Linked DNA regions of Homo sapiens. The protein of the gene in region 1 purifies or fractionates together with the protein of each later gene. This does not show direct contact. Each region holds a gene or a part of one and is shown on either strand. Other genes may lie near its edges.

The links. Proteins that work in one complex are often made in the same cells at the same time.
Region 2: the proteins of TPM1 (region 1) and CCDC102A purify together in Homo sapiens (affinity purification with mass spectrometry; 3 studies listed by BioGRID and IntAct, with this or other methods). This does not show direct contact.
Region 3: the proteins of TPM1 (region 1) and RUFY2 purify together in Homo sapiens (affinity purification with mass spectrometry; 3 studies listed by BioGRID and IntAct, with this or other methods). This does not show direct contact.

What each region holds. Positions count from the first base shown.
Region 1 is NC_000015.10:63,052,645-63,059,746, forward strand, and holds part of TPM1 (tropomyosin alpha-1 chain), read left to right. Parts: intron 1-4,340; coding exon 4,341-4,474; intron 4,475-6,918; coding exon 6,919-7,036; intron 7,037-7,102. UniProt on the Homo sapiens protein: Binds to actin filaments in muscle and non-muscle cells. Plays a central role, in association with the troponin complex, in the calcium dependent regulation of vertebrate striated muscle contraction.
Region 2 is NC_000016.10:57,512,572-57,519,571, reverse strand, and holds part of CCDC102A (coiled-coil domain-containing protein 102A), read left to right. Parts: intron 1-830; coding exon 831-947; intron 948-1,294; coding exon 1,295-1,504; intron 1,505-3,108; coding exon 3,109-3,279; intron 3,280-4,127; coding exon 4,128-4,231; intron 4,232-6,701; coding exon 6,702-6,831; 3' UTR 6,832-7,000.
Region 3 is NC_000010.11:68,376,278-68,383,277, reverse strand, and holds part of RUFY2 (RUN and FYVE domain-containing protein 2), read left to right. Parts: intron 1-1,878; coding exon 1,879-2,046; intron 2,047-3,756; coding exon 3,757-3,854; intron 3,855-4,607; coding exon of another isoform or gene 4,608-4,716; exon of another isoform or gene 4,717-6,085; intron 6,086-6,262; coding exon of another isoform or gene 6,263-6,290; exon of another isoform or gene 6,291-6,305; coding exon 6,306-6,425; intron 6,426-7,000.

The DNA.
Region 1 (7,102 bases):
TTTTAGATAACAGATGGTCATGTGTCTATGGGCTTGTACCGGCAGAGGCAACAGCAGGTCCTTAAGACTCCCCAGGTGCCATGATGAAAAGAACCTTAGAAAATATTGAAATAAGCTCAAAACTTAAAAAAAAAAATACCAGAAATAAAAGCTAGTAAAGGTGAGAGGTGTGGGGCTTTTGGAACATAGAGCATAATAAATCAGAATAAAAAGTAAAAATAAGAAAGAGAAAAAAGTGGCCCTGATTAAATTATAAAATTAAGCATATCTTGAATTCTAACGAGCCAAACAAAAATTCTACTAGGCCAGTATAATAGGGCCTGCAGAGCCTGTCATGGGTTCAGGGTTTTCCCATAAAGATAGGTGTACCTCAGATACTACTCCTAGGTCCTGGCTTTAACCTCAAAGCCCCTCTGCCTGTCCTGCTCTGAAACCTCTGGGGCAGTAGGCATTGACTTCTGGGCTAGGGAGTAAATGTTCCGTGTCCTTATGTGAGCTTCCTATTACCCATTAGCATTGTTTTATGAAGTTTTCAATTTTATATCCTGCCTCATTTCAAAAAGATTGTGATAATCACTTTAGCAGATGATTTGCATTGCAGCAACTGTTCTCCCAGTCCTGGTTAGGATCTGTGCCTGAGGCCTTTTGTGGGGAGTTGGGGTGGGGGCCGGAGAACATCTCAATCTGATCTCAGGAGAGATAAAGACACAGGAGTGAGAACTGCCAGTTCCAAGGTTTCCGTGATGTTCCGGGAAGCCAGGAGAAGTGACATAGTGGAGAGCCGGCATGCTGGGAGCCTAGTGACTTGGATCTTAATCCTGTCTCACACTGATGGCTGTATGGCCTCCACATACTTCTGTGCCCAGGGTCAGAGTTCCCTCCTGCCGCCTGTTTCTAGTCAAGAGCTAGAAGAATAGCCAGCTTCTTTGGGTGGTGGCAAAGGGGATTGTTTATTTATAGTACAGATTCCTGCCCTCCCCCTTTGACCTCCTGAATCAGAATCTCTAGGGACACGGCCTGGAAGTTTGATTTTTTTTTTTTTTTTTTTGTTTTTGAGACAAGAGTCTTGCTCTGTCGCCCAGGCTGGAGTGCAGTGGCATGATCTCGGCTCACTGCAGTCTCTGCCTCCCGGGTTCAAGCAATTCTCCTGCCTCAGCCTCCTGAGTAGCTGGGATTACAGGCATGTGCCACCATGCCTGGCTAATTTTTGTGTTTTTTGTAGAGACGGGGTTTCACCATGTTGGTCAGGCTGGTCTCGAACTCCTGACCTCATGATTGCCCGCCTCGGCCTCCCAAAGTGCTGGGATTACAGGCGTGAGCCACAGCGCCCAGCTGAAAGTTTTTTTTTTAATGCTCATCTCTGAGTTGATTCTGACACTCAGCCACTTGTGGGAATTGCTGATCTGGACAATGCCTAGGGATCCTTCTAGCTAAAAAATTGAGACCCTATTTTTTGGATTTACAGGGCCTCCTCAGGAAGGGGCAGCCACTCTCAGGTCTGCTGTGTGTGCCCTACCATTCCTCCCACTATATCACAAACTGGCACCTAGAAACTGGTCTCCATGCCCAGTCGTTGCTGGGGCACCCTGTATGAAGCCCTGCTGGCTGGTATTCCTGTAGGACATATTCTCTGATGTCCAGGAGTCTGAGGTTCTACAGAATGCCCCTGGGGAAACAAGAGTGGCATTTAGACAACAGCATTCTGTAAACACAGTGCCAAGAGCTAAGGGAAAGAATGGGGGTGGGGGTGATCGGAGGGAAGACACGGATGGATTGGTAGGGGCCCTTTGGGTAGGAAGATCTCATGTGCAAGGCTGGAATGAACATGAGGTGCTGTTTCCTTCCTTTCTGGTGACTCGGCTGTGTGGGGAGCTGGGGATAGAGACCTGTCACCCAGAGGGTTCTTTCCCCAAAGCATAAACAGTCGTCTTTCTGTGAGTACAAAGTCCTTGAGGTTCAGGCCCAGATCTAAAGCAGAGCAGAGAACTTGGAACTTGGTAGCTACAAAAAAGTTTTGAAAATCTTGCTGGCATTTCTCTAATAGGCCATAGCCTCTGTAACAAGGATATTTGCCATCATATTGAAAATGATAAGAAAGGGGGAAAGAAAAGAAAGTGTACAGTGCTTTTGAGTACATAACCTAGACACTCTATGGAGGCTTTTTGTTGTTGTAGGGCTTTTGGTTTGTGTGCTTGGTTTTTTTGTGTGGCTTTAAATTTTGTTTTGTTTTGTTTGCCCTTTGTTTTTGCTTCCGCTTTGAGTCTCCCCCCCACCCTCAAAAGGAATAGAATTTTACTGGAAAATGAAAATATAGAAAAGTGAAGAAATCTTACCTGACCCAAAAGTATATCCTTAATATATACATCCTTCCAGTAATAGTAATAAAAAAAAAAAGCCTAATGGTTTTTAAAAGACACTTCCCTATAATTGAGAGATTTGTTATCCTATTACCCTCACCCTTCAATACACACACACACCAGAAACAACAGTCATCTGCCAGTAATTCCTAGCTGGGTCCATTTACCAGCTGTGCACTGATAATGATTTACTTTGTAGGCAGTACAGTTGTAAATGCTCTTCCTCTGATTTATTTCACATTTGCCCTGCTCCCTGCCTCCATCAACCAATTACTACATTTTTGTCAAGATAAAAGTGTATTTACATGTTTTTATAGAGTCCTTCACCGTGGTTGGAGATGCCCTACTCACCTCTCTTCCCAGATAAAACTTGGCATTTAAAATCTTACAAATCTAGGTGAGCAAAGAGCTGAAGGTTCTCAGATTCCTTTGATTAAAGACTATGACCACAGTTTCTAACTACATTTGCATTTCCAACTCTGTATTGTGGATCCATAAGCTGAGAACGTTGCTTTTATTAAAATTAGGTTGGTTTTACTCATCTTACTGAGCCCATACTCTGTGCAGAGAACTGTGAGTTCTCTGGATGTGAGCAGCTTACAGTTCAATGACAAAGACAGGGCTGTGTGTAGAGAAATTTGTTATCCTATTACCATGGGTCCCTAAGTGTGTATTGTAATTTCTAGAAAACTCCTAAGTGTTCTGAAAACCCCACCACCCCTTAGTGAACATACATTCAAAGTGGATGAGGATATTTTACCTGATTAGTAAATTCCATCTCCCACTTCCATGCACAATATTTAAACAGCCACCAGTGCAAGTGTGTATAATGGACCATCATAGTCTTATAAGTGTTCTGAGGCTCATAGCAACAATTTCTTATGACAGGAAAAAAATCATTGCCTCTCAAAGAAACCAACATTTTATTTCAGTGACAGATACCAAGTAAAAACAGTACTTGTATTATTTTTCTTTTTAGGAGTTTGATACTTTTCTTGTATTAACCTTGACTTCAAAGAAAAATCATAGGCTTACATCAAAAACACTTGGGAAATTTGTCTTGGCTCTGTTCCAATGAGGCCAGTTATTCTAAAAGGGGTTACTGGATTGTGTTGGGCCTTCATGTGGTGTGTATTTTAGAACCACTGAATTTTAAACTATTTAAGTTCCTTTGTAAGGATCCTATGATAAAGTGGCTTGAAGGAAAGAGTTGAGTGAAACTCTTGAGTCCGATTTCTGGCTGTACTGCTATTGTCTTACATGGCTGAGCCTGGGTAAGTCTTGTCTCAGTTCACACTTCAGGCCCCCAGTGAGTGAGGTGGCCGTGATGACGCTCTTGTTTAACAGGCAAGTAAAGCCAGGGTGTTGAACTCTACGGAAGTGGGCCGGGCGCAGTGGCTCACGCCTGTAATCCCAGCACTTTGAGAGGCCAAGGCAGGTGGATAAGGAGGTCAGGAGATTGAGACCATCCTGGCTAACACGGTGAAACCCCGTCTCTACTAAAAATACAAAAAAATTAGCCGGGCGTTGTGGCGGGCGCCTGTAGTCCCAACTACTCGGGAGGCTGAGGCAGGAGAATGGCGTGAATCCAGGAGGCGGAGTTTGCAGTGAGCTGAGATCGTGCCACTGCACCCCAGCCTGGGTGATAGAGCGAGACCCTGTCTCAAAAACAAAACAAAACAAAACAAAAAAATCTACGGAAGAAAGGAACCATGTGAAAGAGCGTTTGCTAATGATCTGTCTGTCTGATGAGAATTGTGTGTATAGATTTGTGTATACACAAATATGGATGTTCACTGTATAAATCAATGTGTAAATGTGTCCGAGAACTCCAGAGTTGATGAGGGCTTGTAATGCACTTAAAGGTAGCTCACCACAAGACAGTCTTCCTATCTGAAATCAGCATTGCAGTCCCAGCCATTTCCTGAAGCTACCACCCTCACTTTCTCCCCAACTCTGAAATGCTTTTCACTCTCTACCTAGGCTGAAGCCGACGTAGCTTCTCTGAACAGACGCATCCAGCTGGTTGAGGAAGAGTTGGATCGTGCCCAGGAGCGTCTGGCAACAGCTTTGCAGAAGCTGGAGGAAGCTGAGAAGGCAGCAGATGAGAGTGAGAGGTGAGAATGCCTCATCAGCCATCTTTTGCAGCTGCCTTTCCTGGTGGAATAAACCGGAGGGCTCCTGTGATCTTTGAGGTTTAAGAATTTTTCAGTCCCCTGGTGGTGGGATCATTTCCTCTATTGATCCCAGGTATAACTCGGTTGGTTTTGTTCATTTAGCATTAGTGAAACACCTACTATGTCCAAAGCACTGTCCTAAGCCCTAAGGTTACAAAGAAGAAGATGATCTTGTTCCTGCCCTTACAGAACTCACCATCTAATGAGGGAGACAGACATGTAAAGGAGAAATGTCAGGGATACAAGTTGGCCCTTTCACTCCTACTGACCACAGAGCAATTGTGCATTTTTTAAAGTGTAACTTTATTTTATAATATACAAGGAGGCTTAGGTGTAAATAAAGGAACTGTGGACTATCAGTTGTCAAAATAGCTTAACAAATAGGTGGAAGAAAAAACACAAAGCAGAAACATGGTCTGCAAAAGTAAAATATTTTGGACTTGGTCTTAGTAATATACACAACACACATGCACACAAATAGTCAGATGCTCGTGTGTTCTGAGCCCACCTCCACTGTAATCTGGCTGTAGCTGAATTATTACTCAGATTCAGCTTTGTGGTAGTAAAGGAAAGCATGGTTCGTATAGACCAGCACAGCCTTGTGTGGTCTAAAAGGCATTTTCCCTTAAGCTCAACTGTTGGAAGTAAGGATTTGCCATATTGCATAGAAGTACTTCAAGAGAGACTCCATGAGGTGAGAGAGCGTTCTGCCGCTTGAGGGATGGCATAGCATGAAGGGGCTCAGAGCACTGAATGTGTATCTGTCTGTGCTGTGACCTGGGCAAGTGAATGCAGTCAGTCATCTTGTCCATTTCTTACTCTTTGAAGTGACCCTACCACTAGGTACCAGGTATAAAGAGTGATTTCAGACTTTAGGATTAAAGAAGATTTTTAGCTAAACTTTTTAGGCCATTATTCACCGCTGCTTAGTGTTTCTTCGCTAACCAAGCATTTTGGACTTCTTTAAGATGACTAAGCATCTTACAGTGTACGCATAAGAGCAGTTTTGTGGCTGACTTCTTTCTGAAATATACTTGTTAGTGTACCTTAAAGGCAGTCTGGTAATGTTAGACTTCGGAGTAAAGGGGACTTGGGGATCATTTAGTCCCTTAGTTTTACAAATGAGAAAAGTAGGGCTCAGAGGCTGATGTGACTTGCACCAAGGCTCACAGCATATTTGTGGCTAAGCCAAGACTCCGACCCAGATCTCCTCAACTGTATTCCAATGCTTCATCAAAAGATAGTGGGCCAGATGTGGTGGCTCACACCTGTAATCCCAGCACTTTAGGGGGCCGAGGCGGGCAGATCACTTGAGGCCAGGGATTCGAGACCAGCCTGGCTAACGTGGCATAACCCCTAAATCTACTAAAAAATAGAAAACTTAGCCAGGCGTGGTGGTGCACACCTGTAATCCCAGCTACTCGGGAGGCTGAGGCAGAAGAATCGCTTGAACCCAGTAGGTGGAGGTTGCAGTGAGCCAAGATCACACCACCGCACTCCAACCTGGGTGACAGAGCGAGACTCTGTCTCAAAAAATAAAAATAAAAAAATAGTGGTTCACTTATACTGCCTACTTAAATTTTGATAAATGAATTCCATTTTACATGACTTGTTATTCCATATATCTGTAAAATATCATAGGTCATTTAGTATTTTTCTGAAACATTACACCACGCTATAGGACCCTAATATACACCATGCCATAGGACCCTAATACACTCAGTGTAGAGGACAGTGTCAGGCCTGTCTCCCAGCATTGCTGTCATGAAAGGGTTCCATTATAGGTAAAACTTAATTTGATGCATTCAGTTGAACCATAAGAAATTGCCATTATTACTTGTCTGAAATGGTCAAATATCAGCATTCTTTGTGGACTTAATAGTTTATTAAATCTAACATTAAGTCTAATATTTTTGTTTATGGGTGGCAGGGTAAGAAGATTCTTTGTAGAAAGAGGTATATAAAGATAAGTTTGATTTTGTTCTAGCTTTGGTTCATGTGCAAGCTGAGGCTTCCCACAGGAAAGGCAAGAAATCTCATTATCTTTTTAATAGTAAAGCATATTGGCTTTTCCGGTTTCATACTGCCAAGATTCAGACAGATTCCTGACGTGGTACCTTTCGTCATCATTAATGTTAGATGCCTGATAGTTTCATCAGTACTCAAAGTGAGAGAGTTCATTCACAGTGAACAGAGAGAAATGTGTCTCTTTTTTCCACCTTTAGCTCTGGAAATTGTTGTTTCCTGGTTTGGAAAATAAAAGTAGCTCTGTGCTCTATTTTGGTCTACCACTTACACTAAGCCTCACAAGCCACAGCAGTGCAGTGTGCATTTGGGAAGTTCAGCTCTAAATCTTGGGTTTTCTTGCTTGTCTTTCTTTTCAGAGGCATGAAAGTCATTGAGAGTCGAGCCCAAAAAGATGAAGAAAAAATGGAAATTCAGGAGATCCAACTGAAAGAGGCCAAGCACATTGCTGAAGATGCCGACCGCAAATATGAAGAGGTCAGATCCTGGGGCCCAAAGCCTTGTGGACACCCAGCAGTGGCCTTCAGGAAGCCAGGGAGCAAT
Region 2 (7,000 bases), on another chromosome or scaffold:
CAGCAGTTTGTTGGGGTTTGCTGTATACCGCAAGAAATGTTATTGTCTTAAATGCACGCCAAGCAATGCCGATGCACCTGTGTGCAGAGCAGTGTTGGAATTAGTCACTGTACACTGAGGGCGGCCCTGTGCCCAGGCCATACAACGACACAAAGGTGGACAGACGCACAAGCTCCCCGTCCTCCCAGGCTAGCTTTCCAGTGGGGAGTGGGATGAGGAGGCCCCTCCTCCAGGCCAGGTGGGCAGAAGAGGCATTCCTAAGGAGGGGGCCTTTAGGTCAAGGCCTGAGAATAAGAAAAATCAGTCCTAAGAAGTGTCTCAGAAAGATCCACGCATGTGCAAAGGCCCTGTGGTGGGCAGGAACTTGGTGTGTCTGAGGAACAGAAAGGAGTCCCTGGTGCCTGGAGTACAGTGAACTAAGGGGGAGCGGCGGGTAGGTGTCCAATCGTGCAGGGCTTTGTGAGAGCGTAGAGAGGAGTTGGACTTTACCCTAAGGCACCTGGGAGCCATCAGAGGCTTTGTGGGAGGAGGGTGGTATGATTGCATTCATCTTTGTTAAAAGCTCCCTCTGGGCTGCTGTTGTAGAAAACGGGTTGACAGAGAAGGGCCAGGAGTAGACACTGGGAGGCTAGACAGTAATGAGGAGGAGAGACATTGGGAGGAGCAGAAGTGGTCAGATTCGAGGTCTGTTTGGAATACCTGGTGCCTGCCCCATTTGGGCGCTGCCTTGGCTCCACGCTGAGCACTCCTGCACTGGCGCCCACCCCCGGAGGTGGTTCCAGGCTATATCCTGGTGGTTCTCATGACCAGGTGGGGCCTTATCCCTGCAGCTCAGCATCCTGAAGGAGGCGCACCAGGACGAGCTGGGCCGCATGTCTGAGGACCTGGAAGATGAGCTCGGTGCACGCTCCAGCATGGACCGGAAAATGGCCGAGCTGAGGGGCGAGGTGAGGCCATGGATGGGACCCAGGAGGACCTGGGTTTAGGGGTCCTGGGGCCCTGCTCCATCAGCAGGTCACTGGGAACAGGGCAGGGGCCAGGACTGTGCTCTGAGCGGGGCCAGCCACATCCAATGGTGTCCTGATCTGCAAGAGGCAGGCCTCTCTCCCACACAGAGGCCAGAAGCGCCCTCACATCCTGTACACCATGAAATGAGCCCAGCTTAATTACAGCCAATGCAGCTGGATCTGCTTCCTGGAGCCAAAAATGGCTCCAGGAGGTGGCGGGGGCATCCAGCTCAGGCCCTGCATGCCCCCTCCGCTGGGAGTCCTCACTCTGCCCTGCCCTGCTGCAGATGGAGCGGCTGCAGGCCGAAAACGCTGCGGAGTGGGGCCGCCGGGAGCGGCTGGAGACAGAGAAACTGGGCCTTGAGCGGGAGAACAAGAAGCTGCGGGCACAGGTCGGAGACCTGGAGGAGGCGCTGGCCCGGCGGCGGCGGCAAACAGCCAGCGCACTGGACTGCGACCTGAGGGCCAGCCAGGCCGCGCTCTTCGAGAAGAACAAGGTGGGGCAAGGAGTGGAGTGGCCAGTGCTGGGGCTGCCACCTCCCCATCCAGCCAGAGCGCAGCTTCCCTACTATGTGTCAGGCCTGGTGATAATTATGGTAGCTGCATGTATTCAGCACCTTGTGTGCTAGACCAGTTGGTAATTATAGTAGCCGCATTCATTGAGCACTTACTATGTGCCAAGCTCCACTCTAGGTGCCAGAGACACAGCACTGAACAGACAGATGTGGCCTCCCCTCTTCCCCTCATGGAGCTGAAGACTTACTTGGGGGATGTACACATGGCTCTCTCTGTCACACAGATTCATGCCAATCACACAGCTTCATGGTCACCAGCAAGAAGAGGGGATACTAGGAGACCTGGCTTAGGCCCACGGTCCTGGAAATACCTCCCGGAGGCAGTGACATTTTAAACTGAGTTCTCAGCCAGGCGCAGTGGCACACATCTGTAATCTCAGCACTTTGGGAGGCTGGGGTGGGCAGATCACCTGAGGTCAGCATTTTGGGACCAGCCTGGCTAACATGGCGAAACCCCATATCTACTAAAAATACAAAAATTAGCCGAGCATTGTGGGCACCTGTAATCCCAGCTACTCGGGTGGCTGAGGCAGGAGAATCACTTGAAACCGGGAGGCAGAGGTTGCACTGAGCTGAGATTGCACCACTGCACCCCAGCCTGGGTGACAGAGAAACTCCGTCTCAAAAAAATAATAATAAATAAATAAACTGAGTTCTCCAGGAAAAGCAGCCGTTAACTGGTAGTGTGCGGATTTAGGGGAGGGGATGGAGAGAAGTTAGGAATAACATGAATAAATGTCCGTGGTGAAAGAGACACAGAGCTTTGGAGGAACAAGTCCAGTGTGCTGGAGGGGAGTGAGCGGGGGGATGTGGTAAGTGAGGCACGAGTGGTGGGACTCTTCGAGAGAGTTTAAAGCAGGAGGGGAGTGTGAGCAGGCTGTGTGGGCAGAGGATGGGAAGACAGGCTGGGGGGAAGCTGTTGACATTCCCTGGACAACAAGAGAGGGAGGAGACCTGGACCAGGTTGCAGTCAGTAGAGATGGAACAAAAAGGATGGACTCAAGAGACCTTTAGGCAATGCCTATTCCCATTTTACAGAAATGGAAACTGAGGCTTAGAGAACTCACAGAGCTCCAGGGTGGGCATCTCTTTTGCTGGCTGCCCTTCCTCTTCCCAGCCACTCTGGGCTCTGAGACACCCACCCATTCCCCAGCCTAGCTCATTCCCAACCCAGCTCTTTCAATGCCATACGCCCCTGAAGACTCCAGACCTCATCCTTCCCCGGAAACCCCGACCCTGCTCCAACAGCTCCAGGGTAGATCCAGTAGCATCTGAAAGTTACACATCCAAACCGGAGCCACAGGTTCCACCCACCCAGCCTTCTCACCTCCCTGGAAGGCACCTCCAGCCTCTGGCTGCTCAGCCAAACCTCTACTGCTGATACTTCAGACAACAGATGGAGAGATTCTGGGAAGGAGAGACACCCAGCATCCCTAGAACTGCCTGACCTCGTGGGACTCCCTGGCATGGCGCCCAAGCTGATACTGATTCCCTCCTCCCTCCCACCCCATCCCTGTGCCCTGTAGGAGCTGGCAGACCTGAAGCATGTGCATGGCAAGCTGAAGAAGCAGTTCCAGGAGAAGGTGGCAGAGCTGGCACATGCCAACCGGCGGGTGGAGCAGCACGAGGCTGAGGTGAAGAAGCTGCGGCTGCGGGTGGAGGAGCTCAAGAAGGAGCTGGCCCAGGCTGAGGACGAGGTGAGGACCACAGAGGGGCAGGGGCAGCAACAGACCTTGGCCAGGGAGGAGTGGGGGCCGCAGGGCCATCCTGGCTTCTCCATTCTCAGCCCCTGGTGCCTGGCACAAGCCTGTCTCTCAGGAGTCGCCCAGGATAGAGTGGGTAGGTGCGTGATGAATGGATGGCAGGATGGACATGTGGGTGGGAAGATGGGAAGAAAAATGAACAGAAGACAAGATGGATGTGTGCATGGATGAACCAATGGGTAAAGGAATGAATGGATGGATGAATGGGAGAGAGAGGCAGGGCGGGCAGATGGATGGGTGGATCCAATGGATGTATGAACAGATGATGGCTGGATGGGTAGAGAGTGGACAGATGGATGGACAGCTGACTGGGTCAGTGGGTGGAAGAACGAATACAGAGGGAGAAAGAAGGCCAGGTTGACGGGAAGATAGGTGTGTCCGGGAGAGCAGGAAGGCATGGCTAGGCATGCTAGATGGGCTGCTGATTAGATTAATGGATGGGGAGTGGTGGGTGACTGTCTCCATGGGCAGATGAATATCTCCCTGGACGAATGGTCCGATGGACAGACTGATGGGGACAGAAGGATAGGAGGTGGATGGCTGCATCAGTAGTGCAGGGCCTGGGAGGATGGGTAGATGTGCAAGAGGAGGCAAAGGGGATGGAGAGGAACCAAAGGGATGCTTTTCTAGAAGAGGTAAGCCTTAGCCTAGGCCTCAAGGAGCAAACACTCTCGGAGGAGCACCTTCCCAGGGAACAGCAGGAGTGGTTTTCCCTGGGCGGGTGGCCGGCCTTGCCCAGCCCTGGGTGACCCTCGTGCTTTCGGCCCTGCTCACCCCCACAGCTGGACGAGGCCCACAACCAGGCACGTAAGCTGCAGCGGTCGCTGGACGAGCAGACGGAGCAGAGCGAGAACCTGCAAGTGCAACTGGAGCACCTGCAGTCCAGGTGGGCCCCGGGCAGGGAACAGAAACAGGGCAGAGACTTCCAGCCAGGGAACCCTCCGGTCAGGGACGGAGCCCAAACCAAGGCTGGAGGGGGAGACGAAGGAAGAGATCCAGGTGCCTGGAGCCAGAATCCTGTCCCCTCCGGGCAGGAAGGGCCAGAGCCAGGAAACCAGGGCAGGGGGTGCAGGAAGTCAGGCCAGCTGCAGGCCCTGGAATTGTCTCCTCTAGCAGGAGGGCTGGTGGGTAGAGTGAGGGCAGGAAGGGCGGGCTGGAGAGGTCAGGCCCAAGGCTTGGGGCAGTGGGTGGGGCCAGCAGGGCTCAAATAGGCAGCCCTCAGCGTTACTGGGCCCAGGTGACACCAAGACAGCAGGGATCTGAGAGACTGGTGAGCAGGGACTCGTGGAGGGGCCCCAGGCCTGGATCCCGTCCACTGCCAACAGGCCCCACCCAGCACACTCTGCCTCCCTCTCCCAACCCTGTCTCTGTCCCAGCACTCTGTGAATCACAGAACCAGGCGATATCAGAAAACTTCAGTCCACGTCCCTCCCACTTCACAGCTGGGAGGCCCAAGGAGCATCGGAGCCACAGCATTGACCTGTGCCGGGCCCTGAGAATGCACTTAGTTGCATTCTCTTCTTTCGTGGAATAGAGGGTGCCCGGTTCTGCAGCCAGACTGCCTGAATGGTCTGAAGCCTGGCTCAGCATTAGCAGCTGTGTGGCCTTGGGACATTTATTTAACCTCTCTGTGTCAGTTTCTTCATCTGTAAAATGGGGATGATGATAGTTCTTACCTCTTGATTGTTGTGAGTATTAAATGAGCTGATCCATTCTTAAGAAAGTACCTGGAGGCATGGTAGCTCACACCTGTAATCCCAACAGTTTGGAAGGCCAGGGCAAGAGGATTGCTTGAGACCAGGAGTTTGAGACCCCCTGGGCAACAAAGCAAGACCCCCATGTCTACAAAAAATACAAAACTTAGCCAGGCATGGTGGTGTGTGCCTGTAGTTCCAGCTACTTGGGAGACCGAGGCAGGAGGATCACTTGAGCTCAGGAGTTCATAGCTATAGTAGTGAGCTGTGATCACACCACGGTACTCCAGCCTGGGAGACAAAGTGAGATCCCGTCTCTAAGAAAAAAAGAAAGAAAACACCTGGCACATAATAAATGCTGAGTGATTGTCAGCAGCTGCTGCTATTACTACTGTTACTACTACCGCTGCGGAGGGGCTTATATTTGGGTTACATGTTGTGCATCAGCATCACGCTGCTTCTATGAGAGAAAGGAAAGATGTTTTTTCCTAGGGGGCTGGCAGATGAGGAAACTAAGGCCCAAGAGGGTAAGTCTTTCCATGGCCACACAGTTGGTGGGTGGCCAGGCAGAATCACCCCTGGCCATCAGCCATCCAAGCCCTTATTTATTGAGCATTTACTATATGCTGCTGTTTGCTGAGATCTTGTGGCTTAGAGAATGGGCTGCAGAGACCTAACAGCTATTGTGCCATGGTAAACTGAGCCTCGATTTCCCCATCTGCCTGGGATGACGCCCATAAAGTGTTGTGCAGGGGCCCAGGCGTGGGCCCAAGTCAGGACCCATGCCTGGCTGGCTCTGCCTGCTCTGACCCTGCAGCACACACCCTTCAAAAGACCACTTAGCCTTGGGGCTTTCCCGCAGTCTGGGTCACATTGTTCAGGAGCCATAAACTCCAGAAGTGGGCAGGCAGGCCCTGCTGGGCCTCTCAAGTGCTTCCATCGGGGAGGGTGGGGCCACCCAGGACCGCTGTGTCGTTTTATTTTCCAACTTTTTGTGCTTTAATGTTCCGGGGACAGCTCACTAAATCACTGTGCAGTAATGGAGGCCCCCGCCTGTGCCCCTCCCTTACGTGTTAATAATTCATGTCTTCCAGTAAGATGCAGCCGGGGCGGCCACTTTGCTGGGGGGTTGGGGGAGGGATCGGCATTTCCTTCACCAGCTCTTCTTAGACTCAAAGTTTTCCTCGTAAATTTTGACTTTAGGAATTTTAATGTGAGGAAGAACTAGGGCTGAGCCCTTTCTCACTGACACTGGGAATGTAGAGGGCTCAGCCCACCCTGCACTGTCACACCAACCAACTCTGCTGCCTGTGCTCTGAGAGCCAGGCTTGGGTTCAAATCCTGCAGCATGACCTTGAGCCAGCTCCTTCACCTCTCTAACCGCCCAGCTGCTCTGGCACCACCCACTTCAGTTCAGAGCTCTGCCCCACTCCCCACCATCTGTGTGACTTTGAGCAAATGACTTCACCTTTCTGTGCCTCGGTTTCCTTGCTTGTAAAATGGGGGTGATAATGGCACTTCTATCATATAAGGAGATTACAGGAGATGAGACAGCAGGGAAAGCACCAGGGAAGGCTTAACTGCTCCAGCACCAGCTGCAGCCACCTTATCGGGGGACTACCAGCCAGGCTGCTCTAACCTCCTGTCACCCCCACCCCACAGGCTCCGCAGGCAGCAGCAGAACGCTCCCCTCTTCGGGAAGATCCGCAGTGCTCGCTTTGGCACCGAGGAGGCCGAGGATGGAACCAGTGACCTGGACGAGGACGAGGACCTGCAAATCCAGGTGGCCTAGAGCTTCCTGTGGCTGGGCAGGATGGGCCGCCCCATACCTGCCCAGGGTCCAGGCTAACCAGCCACTCAAACTGATGCAGTGCCTAGGCTCACTCTGGGACCAGTCCCTGCCACAGCCGACTTTCTTCTCTCCCAGGGATGGCGTCAACAGTCCCACCTACCAACGCCCT
Region 3 (7,000 bases), on another chromosome or scaffold:
TCTTGGCTCACTGCAGCCTCTGCCTTCCAGGTTTAAGCAATTCTTGTACCTCAGCCTCCCAAGTAGCTGGGACTACAGGCATGTGCCACCATGCCTGGCTAACTTTTGTATTTTTTATAGAGATGGGGCTTTGCCGTGTTGGCCAGGCTGGGCTCAAACTCCTGGCCTCAAGTGATCCACCTGCCTTGGCCTCCCAAAGTGCTGTGATTATAGGCATAAGCCACTGTGCCTGACCTGTATCAGTGTTTTTTAAACTGTAAGTTACAGTATATGATTGTGAATGAATGGGTTATGACCAGCGTTATAGAAAATGAAATAGAACAGAATGACATATTCAAATATTAGGAAAGTCATATTTAAAATTAACTTGTTTTTTAACCTTTGAAATTGTGAAATATAATGCCAACAGAAAAATACGAATATACAGCTTAATGAATTATAACACAAATAACCTGCGTAACCTCCACCCAGGTCAAGAAGAGAATATTGCCCATCTTTTTATCACCTTTTCTGTTTGTCTTGAATGCTAATAAATTTCTTTTTTTTTTCTTTTTTTTTTTTTTTGAGATAGAGTCTCGCTCTGTTGCCCAGGCTAGAGTGCAGTGGCGCCATCTCGGCTCACTGCAAGCTCTGCCTCCCAGGTTCACGCCATTCTCCTGCCTCAGCCTCCCGAGTAGCTGGGACTATAGGCGCCCGCCACCACGCCCGGCTAATTTTTTGTATTTTTAGTAGAGACGGAGTTTCACCATGTTAGCCAGGATGGTCTCGATCTCTTGACCTCATGATCTGCCCACCTTGGCCTCCTAAAGTGCTGGGATTACCTGCATGAGCCACCGCACCAGGCCAATAAATTTCTTAAAATAAATCATAAGAAACTTTTTAATCCTTCTGATAAAAAATTCTTAAGAAATTAAACTGTGTTGGCCGGGCACGGTGGCTCACGCCTGTAATCCCAGCACTTTGGGAGGCGGAGGCTGGTGGATCACAAGGTCAGGAGATCGAGACCATCCTGGCTAACATGGTGAAACCCTGTCTGTACTAAAAATACAAAAAAAAAAAAAATTAGCCAGTCATAGTGGCAGACCCCTGTGGTCCCACCTACTCGGGAGGCTGAGGCAGGAGAATGGCATGAACTTGGGAGGCGGAGCTTGCAGTGGGCCAAGATGGTGCCACTGCACTCCAGCCTGGGCAACAGAGCGAGACTCCGTCTCAAAAAAAAAAAAAAAAGGAAATTAAACTGTTATTTGAGTTACTTTGGCCTTTACATGTACAGACTGCTTCATTTCCTTTTGTTTAAGGAAAATTAATATTCAATCTATGAAGCATAAAAATGATTAATTCTTGGACCGTTAAAGAGTAATGATTAACAGAATATAGAAAATGCTTTCATTTTAACAAAAACTGCGTTTGAAAATATTTACTTACTTTTTGAGACAGAGTCTTACTCTCTTGCCCCCGCTGGAGTGCAGTGGTGTGATTTCAGCTCACTGCAACCTTTGCCTCCTGGGTTCGAGTGATTCTTTCACCTCAGCCTCTCTGGTAGCTGGGACTACAGGCGTGTGCCACCATGCCTGGCTAAGTTTTTGTATATTTTTGGTAGAGACGGAGTTTCACCATGTTGGTCAGGCTGGTCTTGAACTCCTGACCTCAAGTGATCCACCCACCTTGGCCTCCCAAAGTGCTGGGATTACAGGTATGAGCCACTGCGCCTGGCCCTGCATTTCAAAATATTTATTGCCTTGTTATAGGGCCTGGTTGATTCCCTTTAGTGGACTTAAAAGGTGTAGTCTGCATATTGAATGGAAAATCTTTCTTAAAGTATATCTAATTTTTACATCCTGAAGTGGCATGTGAATTGAGGATACATTGAAATTGCAGGATGTAGAGAATGAGCTAGCAGTACAAGTTAGTATGAAGCATGAGATTGAACTTGCCATGAAGTTGCTGGAGAAAGATATCCATGAGAAACAAGATACTCTGATAGGCCTTCGACAACAACTAGAGGAAGTTAAAGCAATTAACATAGAGATGTATCAAAAGTTGCAGGTAAGGATTGTTCTTAAATTTCATTTTATGTAAATTGAAAGTGAATATTTGTAGAAAGGTTTTGGTTTTTAAGAGATGAGCCCATTTTATTTTAACTGTGCAATATTATAAAGGCCAATGTCTTTTTTTTTCTAAATGAAAGCTTAAGAAATGTAATGAAAAAGGTATCAACAAACAAAATATCACCTGTCTAAATTTTTAATGTTGAAAGATTAAGAGTATGAAGATTAAATCTTTTGGGAAAACTCTCAATTTAAACTGCAAAACGTTTTTGTGAACTTCCTTTTCCAGTGTAGTTCTAAGAAAGATTTAATTTTGATTGAAATGCTACACTATCAAAATAGTAAATTTTCTTTCTTTGTTTTTTTTTGAGATGGAGTCTCGCTCTGTTGCCCAGGCTGGAGTACAGTGGTGAGATCTCGACGCACTGCAACCTCTGCCTCCCAGGGTCAAGCGATTCTCCTGCCTCAGCCTCCCTAGTAGTTGGGACTACGGGCATATACCAATACGCCCGGCTAATTTTTGTATTTTTAGTAGAGATGGGGTTTCACAATGTTGGCCAGGCTGGTTTCGAATTCCTGACCTCAGGTGATCCGCCCACCTCGGCCTCCCAAAGTGCTGAGATTACAGGCGTGAGCCACCATGCCTGGCCCATAATTGTGAGTTTTGTACGATGATATTGCTATTAAGTAGATATGTTGCCAAAACCCTTTACAATTTAATTAATTTGAAAAATGTCATATTTTACAAGAGTGTATTCTGTCATCTTCCAAAAATATTGAAGGTGGAGTTTTTTTTTCCTTTATTACATTTTATTTTTTAATTTTTTTTTCTTTTTTTCTTTTGTTTTCTGTAGAGATGAGGTCTCACTATATTGCCCAGGCTGGTCTCAAGCGATCCTCCCACCTTGGCCTCCCAAAGAGCTGAGATTACAAAGGCCTCCCAAAGAGCCACTGCACCCGGCCTATTACATTTTAAATGAGGACTAATAGAGGCCAGGTGCCATGGCTCATGCTGTAATCCTAGCACTTAGGGAGGCCGAGATGGGAGGATTGTTTGATGCCAGGAGTTCGAGACCAGCCTGGTGAACATAGCAAGACCCCATCTTAAAAAAAAAAAAAAAGGGCCGTGTGCGGTGGCTCATGCCTGTAATCCCAGCACTTTGGGAGGCCAAGGCGGGCAGATCACAAGGTCAGGAGATCGAGACCATCCTGACTAACACAGTGAAACCCTGTCTCTACTAAGAATACAAAAAAATTAGCTGGGCGCAGTGGCGGGCACCTGTATTCCCAGCTACTTGGGAGGCTGAGGCAGGAGAATGGCGTGAACCTGAGAGGCGGAGCTTGCAGTGAGGCGAGATGGTGCCACTGCACTCCAGCCTGGGCGACAGAGTGAGACTGTCTCAAAAAAAAAAAAAAATGACTAATAGCACTGCTTTATATCACACAATTATTTTAATGTATAAAGTAACTCTGTTCATTTCAAAGTAACAGTCCCATAGCAAAATGGTGTAAGAAACTTATAAATACTCAGGTTAACAGATCAGAACTCTACTTGGGAGGCTGAGAGGTGGGATAGCTTGAGCCCAGAAGTTCAAATCCAACCTGGGCTGCATAGTGATACCCTATCTATTAAAAACACGCACACACACACACACACAAACACACACACACAAATCAAAACCACCATAGCTTTTGTTTTTATAAATAGGGTTCTGAAGATGGCTTGAAAGAAAAAAATGAAATAATTGCCCGACTAGAAGAAAAAACCAATAAAATTACTGCAGCCATGAGGCAGCTGGAACAAAGGTACAGCATTTCCAGTCTTAGTTTCTTTTTTTCTTTTCTTCTTCCCTTTTTCTTTATTCAGTTCCTACACCTGCCACAAAAACCATTAGGAAGACATAGATTAGGACATGTTTTTTGTTTAAGCCCAGCAGGATTTTGCGTTTTTGCTTTGGTTGTTGCATGGAATCAAGTTGCTTTATATTACGCTGATTCATTTGAAGTTGTCATATTGTAGATTTTTCTTAGAGGCCTAATATCAGCAGTTTCATGTCGTTCAGTTACATAAAACAAATACACAAATAAAAATGTCAAAAAAATTAAAAATGAACAAACAGAGTGAGATTATCCCTGATTGATTTCCATGCATATTAATTGTCATATTCTTTGCCATTCACCATCTGTTTATCTGAAATCAAGCATTCCGAATTGGTGGTTTAGTTTTGTTTCTTTGAGCTAGGACCCTCAACCCAACCGAGGATATAATTTTGTTTAAATTGAATTGTTTTATATTGGCATTTTTCACTTTTATTGTTGGAAAATGTAATGTATTTCCATTGCCCTGTCATGTTGGTGTCAACATATGTCTTTTATCATTGCTTTCTTTGAATCTACTTATGAAAAACATAACTATTAATGCTTTATTGACATGAATATTCTTTTATTGACATCCTCTTTCTTCTTTTTTCTTTTTTGTTTTCTTTATCCCCATTTTTACATTTTGGACATTTTTATTACCTTTTTCTGTCTTTGATTTCTTTCCATTCCATTATGAAGTGACAACGATTTGTTAACTCAAACTAGGACAATTGCAATGTCATTGGTGAAATGTGCCAGCAGTGACACGCAGGACCAGTACAAGCTGGTTAAAGATATATCTTTCTGAAGACCACTTGTATTTAAACAGACTAAATGAAAAGAGAATCAACAATTTTATAATATATTAAATAGAAAGGAATCTAAATGCTATTAAATATTCTAAAAGGATGTTAGGAACCCTGTACATTTCTTGGTCAGCTGCTGTGGTAATACACTGCCATCAAGCAGAGTGGGTGCACTTGGATTTCCAGACATACGTTCCTCAAACCTTGTGCACAAAGGGTGATTTGAGTATTGACCCTTTGGAGGTCAGGATTTTCAAATGCAGTTTTATCTTTTTAGCTACTTTTTGATGAAAAATATAAAGATTGTTTAAAAATAACTTAACCTTCAGTTTTATACTGTGTTGGCACAGATATTTTTTTCTCATTGGCCCACTCTTTGCCCAATGGCTCCCTTACAGATTTTTACATATGCTTTAAAATAATTTATAACCCAGACTGGCCAACACCCTGTGCTTCAGCTTCTCAGTTTTCCGGTTCTCCCTTGCCCTCTTCTGTGATAGCACAACTTCAAGGCCTACCTCACTCTGACTTCTATTTTCCTTTTTGTAACCTTAGAGAAAAGCTTGGGTCCAATCCCAGCACCTGAATATTTTAATTTAAACTTGGATTTGGAGATAACTTAAATGTTACTCTCCCTTCCTTGGAAGCAGCATTTATACCCCTGAAATATGTGAGGGTTGCTCCATTGGTATGGTTTTAAGGAAGAAAGGAAGAGGAAGAGTTTTTTAGTTAGTTGAACCGAAATTTCTCTTGTGATTTCCTGCAAGGAGTTAATATCCTTTGAATCTTGGTAAATATTTTCTTATAAAAATATTGAAGTTAAATACAAGAAATCCTAGATGGCCAAAGAAGGCAGGGAGTGGAGCTAAGCACAGGAAAATGCAACGACTTACAAATAAAAACAGGAAAGATGAAAATCACAATGTTTTAGCTAATTTTTAATATTAAATGGTGAGGAACAAAAATGATCTCTAGCAAATGATGCCAACTGGCACCAAATTCTTTTTGAATCTTAAACATATATGCACACGTGCACACACACACACACACAGAGCTTCGGCATAATTTAGTAAATGCATAAAGATGCCGTAAGAAGGACTTGGCTATCATTTGGAGTAATTGCAGGTCTTTGCTCTTGGCCTTGTAGCACACTTGATTCCTGGCATACACATCCTAGCATAACATATAACAGTGTGGCTTCTTCACCTAGTGTAGGCATAAATCCTTTGCTTTTCATGGTTTTGTAAAAAGGTAGTAACATACCTATTATGCTTTGAAATTTGATTCGTTATGCTCTGCATAAGTGGTAAAGGCTGTATTGCTTTGCACTGTTAATTATGAACAAGAAATAAAACAAATTTGAAGATAGTATTCTGGGCATACTACATGTTATATTGAAAAAAAAAAATCACAAAACAACTTCTAGACATTGTGTGGCTCTTTCACGTTTGAGTTTGTGAGTTTTCCCCCAAACTTTGTTTTCATTTAGAAATGTTTCTATTTCCCCATTTTTCTTTTATTTGTCTTCTTCACCCTTTTACACCCTAGTTCTAGCCTCAGTTTTACCCAAAGTTGATTTGAATTACACCAGATTGCAGCAAGCAGAGAAGGCGCAAATGGAAGCTGAAGATGAGGATGAGAAATATCTACAAGAATGTCTCAGTAAATCTGATAGTCTGCAGAAACAAATCTCCCAAAAGGAGAAACAGCTGTGAGTATTTCACTCTCAGAAACAAATACTTGTGTTAACATAACCCCCTCATTTTTTTGCACATAATGATAGAATACCAATATTTTTATTTATCTAATGATGCCAGTTAGCTTTTAGTGTTTACTTTAAAAAACAAAAAAATTTAGAAAATATAATTGTAATAATACTTATGTTTTTACTCCCTTTATGATTTACAGAGTACTTTCAACTCTGTTTTGCTGTCTTCTTGCTCTAGGAGAGTTTTATTCATTCTTCTGTTGTTTAACATTAATCTGATGGTCATTATGTTTCTAGGTGCTGAGTATAGGCTTTTGTAACTACAAGAAACTTATATTATTAAAGGACATGCTGTTTTCTGAGAATATATATATATATATATATATATATATATATATATATATATATATATACACACATTTTTTTGAGATGAAGTTTCACTCTTGTTGCCCAGGCTGGAATGCAATGGCATGTGACCTCAGCTCACTGCAACCTCTGCCTCCTGGGTTCAAGCGATTCTCCTGCCTCAGCCCCCTGAGTAGCTGTGATTACAGGTGCCTGCCACCACGCCTGGCTAA